Regions from separate parts of the Homo sapiens genome. Here region 2 is reported to be linked to region 1. Evidence: microRNA targets listed by miRTarBase, many of them from high-throughput screens and not tested one by one. Region 1 holds a microRNA gene; the other region holds the end of a gene's coding sequence.
The links. Region 1 holds the annotated microRNA hsa-miR-504-5p (AGACCCUGGUCUGCACUCUAUC, at 1,400-1,421, shown strand). A microRNA usually pairs through its seed, bases 2 to 8, with sites in the 3' UTR of a target mRNA and lowers its output. Matches are read on the target gene's strand: a 7mer-m8 pairs with bases 2 to 8, a 7mer-A1 pairs with bases 2 to 7 and ends in A, and an 8mer does both.

Region 2: miRTarBase lists CLASP1 as a target of hsa-miR-504-5p. Seed matches in the 3' UTR shown: 7mer-m8 at 527-533.

Annotation. Positions count from the first base shown.
Region 1 is chrX:138,665,761-138,669,180 of GRCh38, reverse strand. MIR504 (microRNA 504) reads left to right here and starts at 1,388; the gene lies at 1,388-1,470. All of the region lies in intron 3 of FGF13 (fibroblast growth factor 13), which reads left to right.
Region 2 is chr2:121,337,818-121,341,217 of GRCh38, forward strand. It overlaps CLASP1 (cytoplasmic linker associated protein 1), which reads right to left. Exons shown (of 41, transcript NM_001395891.1): 41 at 1-3,130. The coding sequence ends at 3,044. Among named protein-coding and RNA genes, the nearest start is that of TFCP2L1, 54 kb to the left of the region's middle.

The DNA of each region.
Region 1 (3,420 bases):
CTTCACTACCTCCTGGACTACTACCTTTTTTCCACTGGCATACAGATCATTTCAAGACTTCTCATCCTAAAAAGTCCCTCCTAAGTTTCTCTTTCAGACTGTCTCTTTCCTTTGATAGGCAAGAGCTTTCTTCATTTTCTCGCCTATTTTTAAATTATTCAGCTTCACCTTTGCTTTTATTTTCTCATCTAATTCTTAATTATTCAGCCCTCCGCATTCTATCTTCTGCCCACATTGCCATCCATGAACTCCTCCTGCTAATGTCGCTAGTGACTGCCAACTAAAATCCATTTCTCCCTTCAGTCCTTACCTTATTTCTCCTTTCTACAGCACTTGACCAGGTTGGTCAACTTTTTCATTGAAACCATCTCTTCTGTGGGCTTTCACAACACTGCTTTTTCTCTGTTCTACACCATCACTATTTTTCTTTTAATTTTTACACTTCCCTCGTCTTTTCTGAAATGTTTGATGTCCTCCCCACCCCCAGTTTCCAGCCTCAGTAGTTGTCTTGTATTCTGCTTGTGTTCTCTAGATTATTAAATGTATTCTTGTGGTTTCAGTTACCATCCATATGCAGACACCTTTCATCTTGAGAGCCAGGCTTATATATACAAATGGCTGCTGCACATTAACCTATCACTAATGGCTCTTTAAACTCAAAATAACCAACAATGGAGTCATTGTCTCTATCTCTGAAATAGAACACACTACCCTCCCCCACTTCTTCCCCTTTTTACCCTGTGGCAACAACCTTTTGCTATCCTGATTTTAAGCAGGCTGCAGCATCATAATAAATGATACATAATATCTGCCTTTAAAATGCCTGTAGTGGTTAAGAGGGAGGGCTCTGACATTACATGGATTTGAAACACAATTCAAATGCTTATAAGGTTTATGATTTGGGGCAAAGGAATTATTAATCCATCTGTCCTTTAGTTTCCTCATCTATAAAATGGAGGTAATAGTAGTATAGACCTCATAGGGTTCTTAAGAGGATTAAATGGAATGATAATACATGCACAGCATTTTACAGTGTTAAGTTCATTAAGTTAACAAATGCTTCATATTATTTGCCGTTACAGTCCATATAATAACATGCTGCCTTCAGGCCAATATATATAAGCCTATAATTCTTGGAAGACTATGGAAATCCTATCATATATTAAATTGTCATTTTTTTTAAGACTAAGAAAAATTTATGTAAAGTCCAAAAGTACAGCTGTTTACAGGGGACGAACTGATCCACAAGGCCACAGTCTACCCTCATCAGTTAGTGTCCATCACTGAAGTGGAATAACTCAAAAGGAAAAGGTAACTCAACGAGCCATCCATTTCCCACATAGAATCACAACAGAAGACAGAAAATATGGAGTGGAATGTTGAATCAGCTGCTGTTGGGAGACCCTGGTCTGCACTCTATCTGTATTCTTACTGAAGGGAGTGCAGGGCAGGGTTTCCCATACAGAGGGCACAGACTACCACCGTATGGCAAATGTTGACTGGAACTCAACTTCAAAGCCATTTCACCTGGAATCTTACCCCACCACCCCAATGCTTCATGAAAATTCAACTGATCCTCTTCTATGAAGAAACTCAATCCTGATAAGTCTCTTTAGTAGTTATTGAAATGTCTTTGTAACTCTCTTATAGTCAGGTTCAGTAAGAATGTTAAGTTTCTAATTGAGCTTTTCTTTCTGAACAGTTATTTTGTGTATGTTTATTTTCTGTTTACCAATGTAATATATGTTCTTTGCAGAAAAATTGGAAAATACAAAAAGGTATCTACAAAGTCCCCCAACCAAGAGAAAACCAATATTAATGTTCTGTTATAGATCCTTGTAGTGGCTAGCTGGAATTCGTGTATATCTCTCTCTCTCTGTCTTTGTCTTTCTTTCTCTCTCTCTCTCTATATATATACATATATTCCAAATATACATTTTTATGTAATATATATGTATATTATATATGTATACATATATTCCAAATATACATATATATCTTCATGTAATATATACGTATTTTATATATATGTATAAATACATAATATACATATATAACCTAATATATGATATAGCATAATATATGTATACACATATATGTGTACATATATAAAATACATATATATTACATAAAGATATATATGTACATTTGGAATAACTATGCATACCATGTTTCAAACCTGCTGTTTACTCGTTATTATGACTATTCCTCTATATATTAAAATATTATTCTTAATCTACATTTTAGTGGTTGAATAGTAATAATCTATTTAGTTTGTTCTCTGTTTATTTGTTTTTGTTTTTGGGAACAAGGAACTGTTCACACCTAAATGTGTACAACCTTTATGTCTAGATCAGGCACTTGAATTCTTAAAAAAGTGTTAGGAAATGGAATAATGATCTTTTATTTATAAGTTGTATATGTTTCTGTATTCTGTTCATATATGATAATTGAAATAGACCTATATCTAACACTTTAAAATTTATAGTATTTTCATCTTTATTTCCTCATTTGATCCCTGCTACACCTTGTGAGATAGAGAAGGGCTTATTATTCTGTCCTTATAGATAAGGAAACTTATGTCCAGAAAGATGAAGTGGTTTTCCAAAAGACACGTAGCTAATAAATAATTGACAACATTGGAATTTGGAATTAGAAAGCAAGTCTTGTGACTCCTAACCAATACTCTTTCCAGTACACTTTGCCATGTCCCAACTTCACTTTCTTTAAGTGCTTCTTTCTAGCACCTCTTATTCAATTATTGTCATACGTACTTTTTGGATCATACCTTAGGAGAATGTAGCTTTCTCATGAATTTCCTCATTAGCTGACAACTGAATATGGCTAGATTTTAACAATAAAAACACATTTTTTTCTTTTCAGGAATGCAAATACACAGTGTATTATATGTAGAAAAAACTCTCAGATATTGGATCCTTATTGATGAGGCTTATGAGATAATATAGCAACTCAGACTTTTCTCAGGAAGAAGAAAATCCATGTCTTTTGTTGGACAGTTTAGAGAGTCTAGACTACCATCATTCAGCATTTGAACATTTTGATTTCAAAATGTAGACAATTGAAGAAATACAATGTAAATGCCAGGGAATTAAATCATAGGACAAAAACTCCCTATGAAAACATCTTAGTGATAGCATACATGTTAAAATTTTTGAAAACACTGGGAATGGTTTCACTTCTCATCTGAGTATCTGAGAAACAGATGATTATGTACCTCCCAGCCCTGTGTCAGCCCTAATTTAGTTGATGGCATTATTGCTCCCTGCTTTCTTTTTTTTCTCTTTATAGCAGATTGCTATTCTTTTTTACTTTAAAATAGCACCTTTTGCTGCCCTGTCTTATCCTTGTGCTCTTTTAAAAAGTGGTCAGGCACACACTTTTGTCACTAGTTTTACATGA
Region 2 (3,400 bases), not on the chromosome of region 1:
TTTTTTTTTTTCTTTTTTAGCAAATCCTAGCACATTATTAACAAAAAAATCTGTACATTTGCCATGATACACTTGAAAGTGAAACAAATAAGATATAAATACAGATATGGATGTAACATGAAAAAGCCCCCCCCCCCAAAAAAACCCAAAAAACAAAAAAACCCACCCAACCTGGGGGTGTGGGGACCATGCGTGTGAACACAGTGCCAACATAACTATTTTGGTGGCTGATATTTTTTCAGAGCACTTCTTTATTTCCAAACATTATTGTTAGCAAAGTCCTGGTGGGATTCTACAAAGTTCTTATTTGCTGTCCTTTAAAGTGTAACATTACGCTTGATAAATAAAGGGTGGCAGGGAAAGAAAAAGACTGATGAGACAAAGTCAGTTGCATTACCTGCACAGGGTGGTAAGCTAGTGAGGCGCATAGAAAAGGCAGGCCCGTGGCATCGCCGCAGGTCCGGGAAGCACACACAGTGTACTTGAAGGAAGCTGCGTGCCCCGAGGACCGGCTGCACCCTGCCCAGACCCTGGCTGCAGGGGAGGCAGCAGCTTGGAGGAAGCAGGGAGTCAGCCCGCCCAGCCCCGCAGTGGAGCAGCGGGGGTCTTGGGCCCTGGCCAGTCCGGTAGACAGGGAGGCAGAGACAGGCTTAGGTGCTCTGCTCTTTTGTGTTCTGTTTTTCATTGGAACAGGGGCCCTGCAGGGAGGCGGCGGCAAGGCAAGGCAGCTGCAGCTGTCAGGGTCTAGGGGGCGACGGTGGGCTCGGCGCCCTCCCAGTGAGGTGGTGGCGGCATGCGAGTCTCCTCGGCGCGGCGGCAGCAGTTTTCAGATTGAGGCCAAGAGACCTGTGACGTGATTGTATCTCTAAGTCAGGAGACTGAAGACTGGGCGAGTGACATTCAAGGCTAGCCCTTTGTGAGTACTATGAGGACGTCCAGCAATGTTCGAGATCCTTTCTAAGTACACTGGGGACTGGGGTACCTTCTGGGAGTCAAAGAGCTCAAGGAGAAAGGTCTTTCTAACTGCATTAGGAATAAAGAAACTCATGGATAACCTAGCCCGACGCACATTCCTGCAACAAAGGGGTCAACAAGAGACTCCCTAATTCACTTGTAGAGTGTAAAAAAGAAATACCATTAATGACATATTAATAAACAAACAGTACTTATCAACAAAAGACCTGGTCCTGCTATATTTTGAGCCAAAGCTCGTCAGTAATACCCAACCCCTTGAAACGCGTCCCTCAAGTTCCCTAAACAGCAGCAGTGAGGTACCACACATGTGTAGGGTGCACGCACAAACACACACAACACCACACACACACACACACACACACACACACACACACACACGTCAGCACCCTGGCTTTACTGTTCCTATGCACTATGGGGCCTTCATTTTCAGCCCATGTTTCCAAATCAACATCAGTCTTTCCCAGCTTCCTGCATCCAATGCAGAGGGTCAGGGCAGAGGGGTCTGTGGAAATGATGTTAAGAATCACGTGCTCTGGCACCCAGCCTCTGCTTTCAGTCCTAGCAGTTGCAGTGGGCTCTGCACTGCAATAGCAAATACGTTATTAGAATTAATCTCAAAAGAAGCATTTTCCTTATGGAAAAATCAGTTCAATTTATAGGATCTAATACAACAGTAAGAGACAATAGAAGTCCTCATGATTGCATTAAGAATTTCCATTTGGCTTAAGAATTTTACTCAGAATTTATTTAACCAGACTCCAAACCTCTAGTTACTTTTATTGGAGTAATTAGGCTCTAAAGGTGTTTTTAAAAAGGGGGCCTAGTGGTTCGCTGAGGAGGAAGAGAGACTCTAAATGTGTGTTCTTTTTAAGTGTGTTTCTAATCCTGTTTTTCTGCAATCTGCTACACCTCATAATTACTTTTTTCCTTAAACAGTGACTATTTCATCAACAGACATTCAAGGAACTACTTCAGTTTATAAAATTAAAAAAAATTGTGATATCCAGTCTCTCTAGGCTTTTCTTGGCTCTTAATCCCACATTAAACTGAGAAGTCAGAACTAAGATGGTAAAGATGCCATTTACCAGATTAACTGAGACCATGTTAGAACTGAACGGCTTAGGCAGAACTTTGAGGGGAGGAAACAAGTTGGTGCTCAATCTGAATCACCGTGTAGCCCAGAGATGAGGGTCTTGGCAGAGCCCCCATGACAACAGTGTTCCCAAGGATCTCAGCAGTAAAGATGAAAGACTTCTTCTTTATCTTCTGTGCTTCATGAACTGCCATCTCAGGCATCCCTAAATGATGCCATACATTTATCTTATTTTTGTGTCCAGATTTAAACTTGAAGAATTCCTTTGCATGGAAGCTCTGGGGTAGGGACCTTGTCGGTGGAGTCGATTAGGGAGAGCTGGAAGGAGACTGTCAGGGTGCACTCCCAATTCTACGCTGAAAGCCAGGGCAGTCGGCCTCCAGTCTGGATATGACAAGCAAAATTCCCAGCGTTTGTTAAAAGGCCATCTTCAGACTGTTCTTGCCAAGACTTGATTCCCATTTTTAGTAGGTCTCAGAACACAACTTAAAGATATATCACCTTTCGTGGTGTCAGCTGTGAAAGGGGCCCCACACAGACCATACGCACAAGAAAATAGGCTAAGGAGGAAGAACACAAAGTAACACCCCACCCCACCCCCAAATATGTTATTAACTGAAAAAAAAAATGCTACTTTCTACCAAGTAGTGGCTAGAGCGCTCTGATTTTTAAAAACTGCACCCCACACACAGGGTTTCGCCATCTCAGCAGGCTGTACAAGACATGTTTCAGTATGGCTCTTTTCTGTTCTTATTCCTTTTGTTTTGTATGAAGACTGCAATACAGGCCTTGCTTCCTTTACATTCAATACCAGTAAGATTCTACAGAAAAGCTGGAAGGGACCAAAATACTGATTGTAATAAATATTTGTGGGCCTCCTTGTACTGACTGGGCAGCCGATGAAGGGGGTGGGGAAAGGTCTCTGAGAGGCACCACCGATTGCTTCTAGGTCTACACAAGAGACAGGTACTGCCATTAGCTGTGCGTGGAGACATCGGAGGAGGAGCTGCTGTTGCTGTTGGTGGTCTGGGCCCTCTTTATGTATAAGTTTAGTAGCTTCATCTGAAAAGAGAAGATGAAACTGAATTAGCAGGAAGAAAAGCAATCAGAAAGTAGAAAACAGCAAAAAGAATCCCAGGTGACAGTAAGGAAACAGCAAGTCCCTTAGTTCCCTTGGTTGAGGAATTCATTATAAAAACATGTTCTGAGTGCCTGCTGCCCATCCAATGCATCTGCCAGGTGCTAGGGCCACAGAGGGAGGGAGGAGGCCAGAGTCCAGAGGAGAGGGAAAAGCCGTGGGCAATTACAAGACCACCACCAGGTGTCACAACT